Regions from separate parts of the Homo sapiens genome. Here region 2 is linked to region 1. Evidence: fine-mapped expression QTL. A gene starts in region 1. The other region holds a variant in brackets. All regions are shown on one strand. Distances are between the middles of the regions.

The links. PIP is the estimated chance that this variant, and not a neighbour inherited with it, causes the effect.
Region 2: its variant is fine-mapped to the expression of WDR88 in stomach (GTEx, PIP 0.95).

Annotation. Positions count from the first base shown.
Region 1 is chr19:33,126,831-33,135,530 of GRCh38, forward strand. WDR88 (WD repeat domain 88) reads left to right here and starts at 5,284. Exons shown (of 11, transcript NM_173479.4): 1 at 5,284-5,615. The coding sequence starts at 5,340. GPATCH1 (G-patch domain containing 1) reads left to right here. Exons shown (of 20, transcript NM_018025.3): 20 at 3,300-3,712. The coding sequence ends at 3,330. RefSeq lists enhancers at 483-652, 5,121-5,290, 8,128-8,177 and silencers at 2,219-2,363, 7,928-8,047.
Region 2 is chr19:33,148,127-33,156,826 of GRCh38, forward strand. WDR88 (WD repeat domain 88) reads left to right here. Exons shown (of 11, transcript NM_173479.4): 5 at 646-784; 6 at 3,055-3,184; 7 at 8,229-8,416. Among named protein-coding and RNA genes, the nearest start is that of WDR88, 20 kb to the left of the region's middle. RefSeq lists enhancers at 1-73, 3,156-3,325 and a cis regulatory region at 3,241. The variant A/G (reference allele first, on the strand shown) is at 4,211.

The DNA.
Region 1 (8,700 bases):
GGTAGGCCGGGTGCAGTGGCTCACGCCTATAATCCCAGCACTTTGGGAGGCTGAGGCAGGAGGATCGCTTGAGCCCAGGAGTTTGAGACCAGCCTGGGCAACATAGTGAGACCCCAGCTCTACAAAAACAAACAAACAAACAAACAAAAAACAAATTAGCTGGGCGTGGTGGTGCACACCTGTGCCTCCAGCTATTTGGGAAGCTGAGGTGGGAGGATCTGTTGAGCCCGGGAGTTGGAGGTTGCAGTGAGCCACTATCGTACCACTACACTCCAGCCTGGGTGATAGAGCAAGACCCTCTCCCTAAAAGAAAAAAAAAAATGTGTGTATTAACTAGGCTTTTTAAAAAGTTTGAATATCTAATTATGTAAGTGATATGTGAATATATTATCATTATGAAAATTCAGGCCAGGCGCGGTGGCTCATGCCTGTAATCCCAGCACTTTGGGAGGCCGAGGCGGGTGGATCACAAGGTCAGGAGCTCGAGACCATCCTGGCTAACACAGAGAAACCCCGTCTCTACTAAAAATACAAAAATTAGCTGGGCGTGGAGCGTGTGCCTGTAGTTCCAGCTGCTGGGGAGGCTGAGGCAGGAGAATGGCGTCAACCTGGGAGGCGGAGCTTGCAGTGAGCCGAGATTGTGCCACTGCCCTCCAGCCTGGGCGACAGAGCGAGACTCTTGTCTCAATAAAAAAAAAAAAAAAAAGAAAAGAAAATTCAGACCTTACAGCCAATGCTTAAAGGAGCCCTGACTAGTTCTCCAAACCTCTACTTTCTCCACAGTAACTTCTGCCATCAGTTTCATATGTAACCTTTAAGACCTTTTTTGTGCAACCACACACACACACATACACACTCACGTACATGGATGCACATACACATTGTTTGTTTCTTTTTTAGACGAGTCTCGTTCTGTCACCCAGGCTGGAGTGCAGTGGTGCGATCTTGGCTCAGTGCAACCTCTGCCTCCCGGGTTCAAGCAGTTCTCCTACCTCAGCCTCCCAAGCAACTGGGATTACAGGCACCCGCCCCCACACCCAGCTAATTTTTGTATTTTGTATTTTTTTAGTAGAGACAGTGTTTCGTCATGTTGGCCAGGCTGGTCTCAAACTCCTGACCTCAGGTGATACACCCACCTTGGCCTCTGAGTGCCAGGATTACAGGTGTGAACCACCATGCCTGGCCTATATACAGATTTTTGTGCACATTTTAAATATAAGTAATATAATTTTATATAGCATATATTTATAGGGTATGAATTTTATTTTATTTTTTGAGACAGAGTCTCGCTCTGTGACCCAGGCTGGAGTGCAGTGGCCTGATCACAGCTCACTGTAAACTCTGCCTCTCCGGCTCAAGGGATCCTCCCACCTCAGCCTTCAGAGTAGCTGGGACTGTAAGTGTGCACCACCACACCCAGCTAATTTTTTTAAAAAATCATTTTTTTTGAGACAGAGTCTTGCTCTGTCACCCAAGCTGGAGTGCAGTGGCGCGATCTTGGCTCACTGCAAGCTCCACCTCCTGGGTTCACGCCATTCTCCTGCCTCAGCCTCCTGAGTAGCTGGGACTACAGGTACCCGCCACCACGTCCAGCTAATTTTTTGTATATTTAGTAGAGACGGGGTTTCACCGTGTTAGCCAGGATGGTCTCAATCTCCTGACCTGGTGATCCGCCTGCCTTGGCCTCCCAAAGTGCCGGGATTACAGGCGTGAGCCACCACACCCGGCCTAAAAAAATCTTTTTTGTAGAGATGGGATCTCCTATGTTGCCCAAACTGGTCTCGAACTCCTGGCCTCAAGTGATCCTCCTGCCTCAGCCTCAGGCGTGAGCCGCTGCGCAGGCCTGCTCTTGCCAGTTTTATCTTTATTGGGAAGAAGGGTGTTGTGTGAATTCTTTGAGTGTCTGGCTTCTGAGATTCCTTCAGATGATGGTAGGCAGCAGTGAGGGGCTTGTAGTCATTGCTGTGGAAGATTCCTTCTTGTGAGCACACCACGGTATGTTTATCTCTTCTGTTGTGTGGATACTGGGTTTTTTACTTTGAGTCTGTGGAGCAGGGATTTTCAGCCAGTGTGACCCAGCTCTGTTTCAAATAGAACTGCCACGAACATTCCTATATGTATGAAATTCAGATTTAGGCCAGGTGCGGTATCTCACGTCTGTAATCCCAGCACTCTGGGAGGCCGAGGCAGGCGGATCATGAGGTCAGGAAATCGAGACTATCCTGGTTAACACAATGAAACCCCAAACCCCATCTCTACTAAAAAAACTAGCCAGGCGTGGTGGCACGTGCCTGTAGTCCCAGCTACTCAGGAGGTGGAGGCAGGAGAATCGCTTGAACCTGGGAGGTGGAGGTTGCAGTGAACCGAGATCGCGCCACTGTACTCCAGCCTGGGTGACAGAGACTCTGTCTCAAAAAAAAAAAAAGAAAAGAAATTCAGATTTAAGACTGACAACTTGGGGGCTGGGCATGGTGGCTCATGCCTGTAATCCCAATACCTTGGGAGGTCAAGATGGGAGGATCGCTTGAGCCCAGGAGTTCAAGACCAGCTCGGGTAATATAGGGAGACCCTGTCTCTATAAAAAAATTAAAAAAAAAAAAAAGACAACTTGGATGCTTTGGGCCCTGGAGTGAATGTATTTTAGTTCCTTCCCAAGGGTCATGCAACGGATGCGGTAGGTGAGTGAAACTGAGATTAAAAATTGCTTGTATTCTCAAGGCTAAATAAGACTAGGGAAAAAAGTTGCTTTTATAAGTGGTCTTAATACGAGGTGTGGGTGAGTGAGTCTCTGTGTGTTTTCAGGGTAATAGAAGAAGCATTTTAAGAACACAGATTGGCCGGGTACGGTGGCTCATGCCTGTAATCCCAGCACTTTGGGAGGCCGAGGCGGGCAGATCACAGTCAGGAGTTCGAAACAAGCCTGGCCAACATGGTGAAACCCCATCTGTACTAAAAATACAAAAATTAGCTGGGTATGGTGGCATGTGCCTGTAATCCCAGCTACTCTGGAGGCTGAGGCAGGAGACTTGCTTAAACCTGGGAGGCGGAGGTTGCAGTGAGCTGAGATCGCACCACTGCGCTCCAGCCTGGGCGACAAAAGTGAGACTCCATCTCGGGGGAAAAAAAAAAAAAAGCACAGATTAGGCAGTACTTCATTGTGGGTTATTGTGAGTGCATTTTGTAGGTGCAGACATGCTGCTGTGATATGGGGAGGCCTGGCATTCTCAGCCTCCACGGAGCTGTTTGGTTTTTCACTTTAGCTAACTTTCCATTTCTCTCTTTTCTGTTTTCTTTTCCAGGCTGAAAAGTCTTCCACTAAGAAGGCAGTAATTGAATGCTGCCCTGGCTCGTCCTAGAATCATTTCTCCTCCATGATGGAAGCCCAGTGATTGTTCAGTTAACGCATTGTACAGAGTGTATTTATATGTAAATTCCTGCTGTAAAATAATTTTTAAAACCTTGACATTTCAAAGACTGCCTTGAAAGGTCGCAGAAATTGATTTCTATTTTTAATTTCAGTTAGTATCGGGGGAAAAAAATCCAGACTGAACAGTTTAATTAAAGTGGAATTTTTCTATTTTCTTCTTGATTTTTAAAAAATTTCCTGGGACGTTAAAAAAGAAGTTAAAAGTGAAGGCTTCTCTCTGGTTTTGTGATGAAGACAGCCTGGACTCACTGAAGGACAAGCGTGTGAGAAGGGGCGGTTGCGGCCCCTCCTGCCGTTTTTTGGGAGTGAAGCTCTTCCCTCTCTGGGTGGCTGGGTTACTGTTGGTGCCCAGGAAGCCCCATGGGAGGGCAGAGCCAGGGCCTGGCAGGGGGCCTCAGCCTCTCAGGGTAGATGTCACTAAAGTGTCTGAGACAGGCAGGGAAACCAGGCAGGAGAATGTGCACCCACAGCCTGGGTTACACGGCTGCAGCTCCCTGCTCTGAGGCCACCTCATGTGTACCAAGGAGACCTTTTTGAAAAATAAAGTGCAGACCAGGTGTGATGGCTAATGCCTGTAATCCCAGAGCTTTGGGAGGCCGAGGCGGGAGGATTGCTTGAGCCCAGGAATTCCAGACCAGCCTGGGCCACATAGAGACCCCTGTCTCCACAAAAAATAAAGTATTGAGCATTTGTATTTTACATTATGAAAGTAGCATCATAGATCACAACAATTTTAAAAGCAGAAAGAAGGAAGAGGCCGGGTGCGGTGGCCCATGCTTGTAATCCCAGCACTTTGGGAGGCCGAGGCCAGCGGATCACTTGAGGCCAGGAGTTCAAAAACAGCCTGGCCAACATGGCGAAACCTTGTCTCTACTAAAAATACAAAAAAATTAGCCAGGTCTGGTGAGCATACACCTGTAATCCCAGCTGTGTGGGAGGCTGAGGCACGAGAATCCTTTGAACCCTGGAGGTGGAGGTTGCAGTGAGCCGAAATTGCGCTACTGCAATCCAGCCTGGGTGACAGACTCTTGTCTCCACCAAAAAAAAAAAAAAAAAAAAAGAAGGAAGAAAATCACTTTTAGTTTTATCATCCAAAGATGACACCCTTCTTCAATATTTTGAATAATTCCACCCTGTCCTTTTCTAGCTATGGGGCTGTTATCTGACTGGTGGTAGCATTTTATTCCCTGTCACTGTTGTTGGGGTTGTGACAGATATTTCCCTCATCTATTATAAATGTTGTAAACCCACCCCTAATAACTGCATCTTATTTCATGCAGGGGCTACCCCATAACTTACTGACCTTTTCTGTTTTGTCATGAAGTGGGTTGGCCAGGAGCTGTACCCAGGCAGAGGACATGAAGAAATTGCCCTGTGACAGGAGCCAGGGAAACCACAGCGGAGGGCTGGAGGCTGGGGTGCTGGTTTTGCTGGCTCGGCCTGGTTCCCAGAATGCAAAGCCCATTTTTCTTTTTTTTGCAACCTCCACCTCCTGGGTTCAAGCCATTCCCCTGCCTCAGCCTCCCATGTAGCTGGAACTACAGGCGCACGCCCCCATGCCTGGCTAATTTTTGTTATTATTTTTTTTAAGTAAAGATGGGGTTTCACTAAACCTGTTGGCCAGGCTGGTCTCCAACTCCTGACCTCAGGTAATCCGCCCGCCTCGGCCTCCCAAAGTGCCGGGATTACAGGCGTGAGCCACCGCGCCCGGCTGCAAAGCCCATTTTTCTATAGGTAACCTGTGCTGCGCGGGGTGGCACTAGTTTTCACCCAGCGGGCGAGGAGGCAGCGAAGTCGCGGGCCCAGCGTAGCGCGCGCCTCCGAAGGGCTTGGTGCGGGCGCGGGCGCGGGCGCGCGGCGCCACCGTTCCCATCCAGGCTTGTCGGCGGCCACCGGCGGACCGGGCTTCGAGATGGCCTCCCCGCCGCGGTGCTCCCCGACAGCCCATGACAGGGAATGCAAGTTGCCGCCACCCTCCGCCCCCGCCAGCGAGTATTGTCCCGGCAAGCTGTCCTGGGGGACCATGGCGAGGGCCTTAGGCCGCTTCAAGCTGTCGATCCCGCACACGCACCTGCTGGCCACCCTCGACCCCCTGGCCTTGGACAGGGAACCACCACCGCATCTGTTGCCTGAGAAGCACCAGGTGCCGGAGAAATTGATCTGGGGCGACCAGGACCCTCTCTCCAAGGTCAGAACCGCCGCTGGGGTGAGGGGGCACTGGCCTGTTCCCCACACGGGAGGAAGGCGCTCGAGCTGTCGGGGGACCCATGGAAAACCCACCTGGCTTCACCAGGACCCCCAGCGAGGCCCTAGGCCCATTTCCCCATCTGTGGTACATCTGTGGGCAAAGGTCAGACCCACCTGAGCAGGGCGTGCTGGGGATGCCGGCGGGGGCTCCCCGCACTGCCACCTGCTGGGGAACCAGGACTCTTCGCTGGGAGGAGGCTCTGCCCCACCATGTGACCCCATCTAGACCTTGGAGTCTCCGTAGGTAGGCCCACCCACAGTGATGCTCCTAATTGCAGCCCAAGGGTCGGTGGCTCAGCTCTCCCCGTCCAGGAGATACAGTTAGCGTCAGAAGAAACGGGAAACTCAGAATAATAATAACAACAATGAATTGGGCCAGGCAAGGTGGCTCACACCTGTAATCCCAGCCCTTTGGGAGGCCCAGGTGGGAGGATCACTTGAGCCCAGGAGTTTGAGACCAGCCTGGGCAACATAGTGAGAGGTCGTCTCTACAAGAAATAAACTTAGCCCAGTGTGATGGGGCGCACCTGTGGTCCCAGCCACTTGAAAGGCTGAGGCAAGAGGATCCCTTGAACCCAGGAGTTTAAGGCTGCAGTGAGCTATGATTGTGCCACTGCACTCCAGCCTGGGCAACAGAGCGAGACTGTCTCCAGAATAAATAAATAAATAAATAAATAAATAAATAAATAAATATAGAGAGAGAGAGAGAAAGAAAGAAAGAAAAAGAAAAAGAAAGAAAGAAGGAGAAAGAAAGAAAAACTGGCTGGGTGCAGTGGCTCATGTCTGTAATCCCAGCACTTTGGGAAGCCGAGATGAGCAGATCACTTGAGGTCAAGGGTTCGAGACCAGCCTGGCTAACATGGTGAAACCCTTTCTCTACTAAAAATGCAAAAATTAGCCAGGCATGGTGGTGCGTGCCTGTAATCCCAGCTACTCAGGAGGCTGAGGCAGCAAGATCATTTGAACCCGGGAGGCAGAGGTTGCAGTGAGCTGAGATCATCTCACTCCATCTCAAAAACAAAACAAAACAAAAACCCAATAAAGAACATTCTCAATAAGTAGCGTTTCATGCTTGGCCTTGATTTATTGCACTCACATGCAGATGTCAGAGTGTGTTTTTAATAATTTCCTCGAAACCTCTGCCTGGCTTCCCAGCATGTTTAAGATGAAGTCTGGCGATCTGCCTGTGGCCTTCCAGGCCATTTCAAATCTGGCACCTCTCCATGTTCTCCTCCCCCATCCCCCTGTCTTGCTGACCTACAAGCAGGTCTGGCCTCAGGGATCTTGGCGGTTCCCTGCCCCCACGGTATTGCGCTCTTGGGGAGGCCCTCCCTGACCGCCCGTCTAAAGTAGCCAGGGCCACTGTCTCCTCCGTGCCTCATGCCATGGTCTGACATCCCCGTTCCGTCCTCAAGGTGTCCTCTGGCTGCCAGCAACTGGCCCCTCGAGGTTAGGGACTTTGCTCCTAGGTGGCTGCTGAGCTGCAGCATCAGGTCCAGGCCCCATGGGGGAGGAGGCTCTTGAGGTTTATTTGTGGAATATGTGAATGAACGCTACGCATAGAAGAACCGTTTTGTTTTTGCTCTGTCCTCTGCATGAGCTTTGTCAGCACCTCTGAAATGTACTCATGTGTTGGGGACTTCTCTCTGCAGCCCCTGGGACCCCTTTACCTAGTGGATCCCAAGGGACTGTGTGCAGAAAAAAACCTGAAACGAGAGCCCCAGAAAAGCCTGTGGTGGGGGTAGCGGAATGGTTCCCCCCTCTTGCTAATGTTTTTCCATGATGGAGTTCTAGGTTTTTTGTTTTCCTATTTTTTAAATTAAATTATATATTTTTTAAATTATTAATTTTAATTTTGATTTTTTTTGTAGAGAGGGGGAGTCTCGCCATGTTGCCCAGGCTGGTCTTAAACTCCTGGCCTCAAGCAATCCTCACTCCTGGGCCTCCCAAAGCACTGGAATTGCATGCGTGAGCCACTGCACCCAGCCAATTTAATTTCAATTTTTAATGATAGTTGGGTTTTCCTAATGAGAGAGATAACCCAAACCCTGCAGGGGCGGCAGGGGCTGGGGTCGCCAGAGGCGGGGGCGGTGCGGGAGGGCCGCGCAGGTCATGTCCCGGGGACTGGGGCCGCTCCTGGGGTAGGGAGCCAACCCTGCACGCGCGGCCCCGGCCTGGCCCGACGGGGTTAGCGAACTCCCCCGGAGAAAAGCCCGGTCCCAGCTCTCCACGCTCCCTGGCAACGGAGCCCGCGTTCCAGTGTCCTCGTGTCCCCGAGCCCCCTAGAGGCGGGGTATCATCTCATCCCCTGCATCTCCACCTGCACGTCCCCGACACCCCCCCCCCCGCCCCGCATCACCTGCAACCGGAAGGCCACCGCCGCCCTGAACCGTCGCATCCCCTCACCCCTGTCCTCCTGCCAACTCAGCCCAGCACCCTGACACTGCCTTCCAGGCCACACCCCTGGTCTTGCCTCCAACATTTCCCCCACCCCCACACTTCCGCAGCTCAACCTGGGACGTGTCGCCATGCGCGAGCTGGGGTGGGTGGGTGGGGGGGGTGACATCTTCAGGCTTCCCTGCTCTGTCCTCTTTTTTTCCCCCCAGTTTTACTGAGATATAATTCACGTACCATATAATTTAACCATAGAAGCTGTAGTGGTTTCTAGGGTATTCAGAGTACTGTACTCCCCAGTTCCCCAATACCCATCCTGCCGACACCAGGCAATTCTGCTTTCTGTCCATAGATTTGTCTATTCTAGACCTTTTATAGCGATAGAATCAAGCCATACGTGGTCTCTTGTGACTGGCTTCATTTCCTTAGCTAACGTCCTCAAGGTTCATCCATGTTGTAGCCTGTAGCAGTGCTCCCTTCCCTTTTCATTACCAAGTAATATTCTGTTGCATGGCCATGACACATTTTCTCTTTCTTTGAGATGGAGTCTCGCTCTGTTGCCCAGGCTGGAGTGCAGTGGCGTGATCTTGGCTCACTGCAGCCTCTGCCTCCCAGGTTCAAGCGATTCTCCA
Region 2 (8,700 bases), 21 kb after region 1:
GGGTTCTGGCCCTTACCAGTCTGTTCTCTTTATATCTTGGAGGGGGTCACTCTCCGTCCATCCCACAGGCTCAAGACTCCCACTCGGCCCTGCACCCCTTCCAGGCACCCTCAGCTCTGCTCAGGGGCCTCCTCGGGGTCTCCTGCCTCACCCCTGCCGTCCCTCCCTCTCAGCTCCTGCAGGCCTTTTCTGTCCCTTCCTCCTTCCTTTCCTTAAAAAACAACCTTTCTTGTTAGTGCAAAGGTCAGTTTGTATTCATTGTAAACATTTTTAGAAAGACAAGATAAGCCAAGTTTTTATTTTATGATGACGATGATGATGATTTTTAGAGACAGGGTCTTGCAAGCTCTGTCACCCAGGCTGGAACACAGTGGCGCCATCGTAGCTCACTGCAGCCTCAAACTCCTGGGCTCAGATGATCCTCCCGCCACAGCCTCATAAGTAGCTGGGACTACAGGCGAGCACCGCCACACCTGGCTCATGTTTTACTTTTGTAGAGATGGAGATCTTGCATGTTTCCCAGGCTAGTCTCAGGCTCCTGGTCTCAAGCGATCCTCCAGCCTTGGCCTCCCAAAGCACTGGGTTTACAGGTGTAACACACCACACCTGGCTTAAAACAACCTTTTGATTGCTGGCTCATTTCAGTGGAAGGTCAGGTATGATACCTTCATCGTCTCCTGTAAGTTTTCTCCTGATGGTAAATACGTGGTCTCAGGCTTCGACGTGGATCATGGAATCTGCATAATGGACGCCGAGAACATCACCACCGTTTCCGTCATCAAAGGTGAGGGTGTGCGGGCTCCCTGTATCTTCAGTCTGCCATAGGAATAGCCACTTGTCACTGACTGACGGTGACCTTCCATTGCTTTATTTGGTGAAACTGTAATGGTATGAAGCACGTCATTAAAGCTGGGACACTAGGCTAGGTGCGGTGGCTGGGATTGCATCTGTAATCCCAGCACTTTGGGAGGTTGCTTGAGCCCAGGAGTTTGAGACCAGCCTGGGCAACAGGGTGAAACCCTGTCACTACCAAAAACAATACAAAAATTAGCCAGGTGTGATGGCATGCACCTGTAGTCCCAGCTGCTTGAGAGGCTGAAACGGGAGAATCACTTGAACCCGGAGGTGGAGATTGTATTGAGCTGAGATTGAGCCACTGGACTCCAGCCTGGCAGACAGAGTGAGACTCCATCTCAAAAAAACAAACAAACAAACAAAAAACAAACAAACAAACAAAAAAACACACCAAAACTGATCCTCTTCAGTTAATGCTTTTCCATTCATTCAGTCTTGTGCTTTTAACAAAGGACACAATGTTCGGCTCCAACCTCATGTGGTCATTGACAGCCTAATCTTTTATTGAGGGGAGGCTCAGGCTTCTTAACATTAACATTAACAGAGTTAACATTAACAGAGTCTTGCTATGTTGCCCAGGCTGATGTCAAACTCCTGGCCTCGAGGGATCCTCCTGCCTCAGCCTCCCAAAGTGAGGGATTATAGGAGAAGCCCCCTCACCCGGCCTACCTGTATCTTTTTTTTTTTTCTTTTTTGAGATGGAGTCTTGCTCTGTCTCCTAGGCTGGAGTGTAGTGGTGCGATCTCGGGTCACCTCAACCTCCACTTCCTGGGTTCAAGCAATTCTCCTTGCCTCAGCCTTCTGAGTAGCTGGGATTACAGGCACCCACCACCACGCCCAGCTAATTTTTGTATTTTTAGTAGAGATGGGGTTTCACCATGTTGGGCAGGCTGGTCTCGAGCTCCTGACCTCAGGTGATCTGCCCGCCTTGGTCTCCCAAAGTGCTGGGATTACGGGCATGAGCCACTGTGCCCAGCCTATTTTTAAAATATAGGACTTAGTAATTGTTGTATGACAGTTTCCTGGTTGGGACACTGTGTGATGATGATACCACATGTTCCCATGGGGGCTGCTGGGTGAAGGACATGGGTGATTTCTCTGTTATTCCTTACACCTCCATGGGAGTTTACAATTATCTTAAAATTAAAGTTAAAAAAATGTGTAATCATTGTAAAGACATTCATTATGGGCTGGGCGTGGTGGCTCATGCCTGTAATCCCAGCACTTTGGGAGGCCGAGGCTGGTGGATCACCTGAGCTCAAAAGTTCAAGACCAGCCTGGCCAACATGGTGAAACCCTGTCTCTACTAAAAATACAAAAATTAGCCGGGCGTGGTGGCGGGCACCTGTAATCCCAGCTACTCGGGAGGCTGAGGCAGAATTGCTGGAACCCAGGAGGTGGAGGTTGCAGTGAGCCGAAATCGCGCCTCTGCGCTCCAGCCCAGGTGACAGAATGAGGCCCTGTCTCAAAAATAAAAAAATCATTCATTATGTAAATAAAAAAGCAAAAGGCTGCTGTGTCTGTCCTGTCTCCTCCCCAGAGGCACCTGTTATGAACCATACATTGCTGGGCAGTCTTCCTGAACCCTGTGTGTATGCCTGTGCGTACAAGTGTTTGCACACACAACACTGCTTCTCATATGTGCTTTGTGTTTCTTTTTATCGATGTGGCACTATGCCATGTGCACTGCCCCACAGCTTCCCTAATAGCCCCTAAGAGCCCACTTGACACTCTGACCCCACCATGCTTCAGACTCCAGCTTTGCCCCACACTGCTCCATGATCCGGCCCAGGCCTTTGCAAGCACTGTTCCTTCTTCCTGGAGTGCTCTTCCATTTCTGCTTCCCTTGCTGGCTTTTCGGGCCCTTCCTGGACCCCTCAGGGTGGCCAGGCTTATGTTGTCTGGGCCTTGGTGGCCCGTGCACTCATCTCATGATCTGTGGCATGTGGCAGGTCGTTGCCTGGTCCGGGGTGTCTCCTCCATCAGACTGGCAGCTCTGCGGGGGCAGGGAACCTGCTGTGCTCCCGGTTCAAAGCCTGGGACATAGTAGTCACTCAGGAATGTTTGTGCAGGTGTGTAGCTCCTGATGAAAACTGGAATTGTGTTTTGTAATCGTCACTGGCTGGGGAAGTCGTGGGAGTCCTCCAGCCCAGCAGGTGGAAGGCGTGGTCTCAAGTCCCTTTCCTCCGTGTTCTGCAGATCATCACACAAGGTCCATCACGTCATGCTGCTTTGACCCCGACAGCCAGAGGGTGGCTTCTGTCTCATTGGACAGGTGCATCAAGATCTGGGATGTTACATCCCAGGCCACGCTGCTCACCATCACTAAGTGAGTTGGACCCCAGGAGGCCAGAAGGGAGTTTGGGTGGGGCGTCCCCATTCATGACTTCCTGAATTCCACATAAGCCAGCATCCATGTGGACACGTCTGTAGCTTGGTCATAGGTGCTCTGAGGAGGCTGGGGACAGGCAGGCAGGAGGGAGCCATCAGCTGTGGCCTGTGGGCTGGGCTGGGCCTCAGATGCATTTGTTTCAATGTGAGCCACTAGTGGAAATCATTGTGCAGAGAAGTCCACAAAAGGTGAAGTTCCAGCATCTCCTGTAAAATGGGAAGGTCTGGCTGGGCGTGTGGCTCATGGCTATAATCCCAGAGCTTTGGGAGGCCAAAGTGGGAGGATCACTTCAGGCCAGGAGTTCAACACCAGCCTGGGCAATGTCACAAGACCCCATCTCTACAAAAAATTTAAAAATTAGCTGGGTGTGGTGTCACACACCTGTAGTCCCAGCTACTCAGGAGGCTGAGGCTGGAGGATTGCTTGAGCCTAGGAGTTTGAGGCTGCTGTGAGCTATGATTGCACCACTGCACCCCAGCCTGGACAATGAAGTAAGACCCTGTCTAAAAAAAATAAATAAATAAAGTGAATTCAGTCGTTTTGGAGATATTACATTATCATTTAAAAAAATTTTGGGGCTGGGCTCGGTGGCTCATGCCTGTAATCCCAGCACTTTGGGAGGCCGAGTGGGGCGGATCACCTGAGGTCAGGAGTTCGAGACCAGCCTGGTCAACATAGTGAAACCCCACCTCTAGTAAAAATACAAAACTTAGCTGGGCGTGGTGGCGGGCACCTGTAATCCCAGCTATTCAGGAGGCTGAGGAAGGAGAATAGCTTGAATCCGGGAGGTGGAGGTTGCAGTGAGCCAAGATTGTGCCACTGCACTCCAGCCTAGGTGACAGAGTGAGACTCTGTCTCAAAATATATATATATATATATACACGCACACAACATAAAACATGATATTTTAACCATTTTTAAGTGTGCAATTCTCTGCCATTCATTACATTCACAGTGTTGTGC[A/G]ACCATCACCACTATTTATTTCCAAAATGATTTCATCATCTCAGACAGAAGCTCTTACCCGTTAAGCAATAACTCCCCATTCCCCATGCCCCCAGCCCTGGGTAATGTTTATTCTACTTTCTGTCTCTATGAATCTGCCTATTCTAGATATTTCATATAAGTAGAGTCATACATTATTTGTCCTCTTGTGATTAGGTTATTTCACTTAAAATAATGTCCTCAAGGTTCATCTGTGTTGTAGCCTGCATCAGAACATCAGAACTTCATTCCTTTTTTTTCCTTTGAGACTTAGTCTCGCTATGTCCCCCAGGCTGGAGTGCAGTGGTGCCATCTTGGCTCACTGCAACCTCTGCCTCCTGGGTTCAAGTGATTCTCCTGCTTCAGCCTCCTGAGTAGCTGGGATTACAGGCGCCCACCACCACACCTGGCTAATTTCTGTATTATTAGTAGAGACGGGGTTTCATCATGTTGGCCAGGCTGGTCTCAAACTCCTGACCTTGTCATCCACCCACCTCGGCCTCCCACAGTGCTGGGATTAAGAACTTCATTCCTTTTGATGACTGAATAGTACTGCATTATAGGTGTACATACCACATTTTGTTTATCTGTTCATCTGTTGATGACCTCTTAGGCTGTTTCTACCTTTTAGTTATTGGGAATAATGCTGCTATGAACACATGTACATGTAACTTTGAGTTCCTGCTTTCAATTCTTTTTATTTTATTTGATTTCGAGACAGAGTCTTGCTCTGTTGCCCAGGCTGGAGTGCAGTGACGTGATCATAGCTCACTGGAGCCTCGGATTCCTAGGCTCAAGTGATCCTCTTGCCTCAACTTCCTGAGTAGCTGAGACTACAGGTGCACACCACCATGCCTGGCTAATTTTTAAGTTTGTTTTTTTTTTTTTTTTGCAGAAACGGGGTCTCATTATGTCTCCCAAGCTAGTCCTGAACTTCTGAGCTCAAGTGATCCTCTCACTTTGGCCTCCCAAAGTTCTGGGATGACAGGTGTGAGCCACTGCACCTGGCCTGTTTTTAATTCTTTACTCTGTATACCCAGGAGTGGAATTGTTGGATCATATGGTAATACTGTGCTTAGCTTTTTCAGGAGTGGGGATCTTGCTTATTAATTTTGCACTGAGAACTGAAAATGATATAGCCCGACCGACATTATGAATTTTTTAAATCCTCTAGCAAGATCAGCTATATCATTTGCAGGGTGCAATCTCGGCTCGCTGCAACCTCCGCCTCCCGGGTTCAAGCAATTCTCCTGCCTCAGCCTCCCGAGTAGGTGGGACTACAGGCGCCCGCCACCATGCCCAACTAATTTTTGTATTTTTAGTAGAGACAGGGTTTCACCACATTGGCCAGGCTGGTCTCAAACTCCTGACCTTGTGATCCACCCACCTCGGCCTCCCAAAGTGCTGGGATTACAGGCATGAGCCACAGTGCCTGGCCACACTGTGGTTTTCATTTACACTGTCATTCATATTGTTTTTCTCCTATAGGTAAAAAGTCATTTCTCTCTTGCTGCTCTGAAGATATTTTTGTTGTCCTTAGTTTTCTGAAGTGTAATTATGTGTCTGGGTGTAGATTTCTTTGGATTTATCCTGTTGGGTTTTACTCAGATTCTTGAATCTGTAGGTTTATATATTTTGCCAAATTTGGTAAAATTTCAGCCATTTAAAAAAATTACTTTTAAAGTTGACTCCATCTTGTCCAGAACTGTACGTGCAGCATAGCCATTTTCCCCAAACTTCTGTACAGGTGAAATGGCCTTCTACGAGAAGTGGGATTTATGTGAAATGAGAGTCCATAGAGATACCTCTGGTTTATTTATTTATTTATTTATGTATTTATTTATTTAGAAATTGCTATGTCTTTTTTTTTACTTTAAGTTCCAGGACACATGTGCAGAATGTGCAGGTTTGTTACATAGGTACACATGTGCCACGGTGGTTTGCTGCATCTATCAACACGTCATCTAGGTTTTAAGCCCCGCATGTGTTAGGTATTTGCCCTAATGCTCTCCCTCCACTTGCCTCCCACCCCCTGACAGGCCTCAGTGTGTGATGTTCCCCTCCCTGTGTCTATGTGTTCTCACTGTTCAACTCCCACTTATGAATGAGAACGTGTGGTGTTTGGTCTTCTGTTCCTGTGTTAGTTTGCTGAGGATGATGTCCCTGCAAAGGACATGATCTCATTCTTTCTCATGGCTGCATAGTATTCCATGGTGTATATGTACCACATTTTCTTTATCCGGTCTATCATTGATGGGCATTTGGGTTGACACGAAGTCTTTGCTATTGTGAATAATGCTGCAATAAACATACGTGTGCATGTGTATTTATAGAAGAATGATTTATAATCCTCTGGGTATACCTCTGGTTTAAACCTCAATGACAGTGTCTGGCTGCTGGGAGAGCTTGCAGTCAAACCTCCATGATATGCCAGCATGGTTCTTAGCTCACCAGGCACTGGGAATTGGTGAGGTTTATCCCGGATGGCCCTGCGAAGTTGACATTTCTTCTCCTTTGGCGTTGCTCAGTTTGTGCCTTTCAAAGAACCAAAATGGGTTCCAAAACTCTGATCTGAGCTCTAGAAAATTGTTTTGCTCAACCTTTTCTTCAGGTCAAATGATTGATTTTATGATCCAGGCTACTCAGAGAAAACTCTGCTTACAAGAGGAGGTGAGAATCACAGGAGAAAGACATTGAGGGTTACAAACAAAAAGTGGCAAAATACAGACAGGCTTTTTATTATTATTATTTTTCTGAAAAAGAAGATGCTTAAAAATTGGAATGAATAACTTCATTTTTTTTCTGAGATAGAGTCTTGCACTGTTGCCCAGGCTGGAGTGCAATGGCACAATCTTGGCTCACTGCAACCTCCACCTCCTGGGTTCAAGTGATTCTCCTGCCTCAGCCTCCAGAGTAGCTGGGACTACAGGCATGTGCCACCATGCCCAGCTAATTTTTATATTTTTTGTAGAGATGGGGTCTTGCTATGTTGCCCAGGCTGGTGTCAAAATCCTGGGCTCAAGCAATCCTTCCACCTAGGCCTCCCAAAGTGCTGGGATTATAGGCATGAGCCACTGCACCCAGCCAAATAACCCACAATTTTATTAATTAAATATACAACACTGAAATATACTTGAATAGCACTGAAGACAAATGAGGATAGGAGTGAGAAAAAGGGAGAGTGAATAGTTGGGGTGGAGAAGCAGAGGAGTAAGTAAGAGAGGGGTGGAACAGGGGGAGACCACGCCTGACATTGTTGGGGGAAAGATGGGGAGCAGGAGAGAGCCTCTGTGTAAGCGCCACCCAGCACCAAGCCCCAAAGGCTGTCTGTCAATCAATCACTCCTGACACCAGCTGCTTTTCCCTCCAGCGCCAAGGGAATACTGCAGAATCTTCCCAAATGAGGGCAATTTGTGCCCCAGTGGACATTTGACAATGTCTGGACTCATGTTTTGTTGTCACAACTGGGTGTGGGGGTTCCTGGCATCTAGCCAGGAGAGGCCAGGGATGCTGCTCCACCTCCTACAGAACACAGGACGGCCCCCACAACTCTGAGTGACCCAGCTCAAAATGTCCACCTTGGTGTGGTTGGCCCAGTGCCGTGGCTCACGCCTGTAATCCCAGCACTACTTTGGGAGGCCAAGGCAGGTGGACCACTAGAGCCTAGGAGTTTGAGAGCAGCCTGGGTAACATAGCGAAACACTGTCTCTATTATTATTTTTCTAAAAATTGGTGCAGTCGAGAAATGCTGGAACAGCGTGACAGTCTGAGCAATTCACATCTGGACCATGGTAGGCAGTGATCAAAGGCATGATGAACATGAGCTCACAGGAGATGCTGACCCCCACTTAGGTATGTCTTCAGGTCCTCTTGGGGCGAAGTGCTAGCATGTGCAGCCCGACCATGAGCTCACAGGAGAAAATACCCCCGGCTTTAGGTATGTCTTCAGGTCCTCCAGGAGCAAAGCGCTAATGTGTGCACCCCACCATCTGTGTTTCAGGGCACATTCCAATGCAATCTCAAACTGCTGTTTTACCTTCAGTGGCCATTTCCTGTGTACAAGCTCCTGGGATAAAAACTTAAAAATATGGAACGTCCACACAGGGGAGTTTCGAAACTGTGGAGCCTGTGTGACTCTGATGCAGGGCCATGAAGGTTCTGTCAGTTCCTGTCACTTTGCCAGAGACAGTGAGTAATTAACATGCAGAAGGCCTCCATTCCTGTGGGAGTGCTGGGCAGAGTTCTCCATGTTCCGTTCAAATGGACAGAGAGGCAATTTCCAATGATGCTGACAGGGAGGGCGGATTCTTCCCCACGAGAACAAAAAACCCAAGAGGGAAGACCACAGGTACCAGTTTACAGTGGTAGAAACTCAGCTCAATGTGGCGTATGCAACCAAAGAAATTGATTAATCCTGTAATGGAAAAGTCCAAGAGCACGTCTGACTTCAGGCATGGATGGGACAAGAGAGT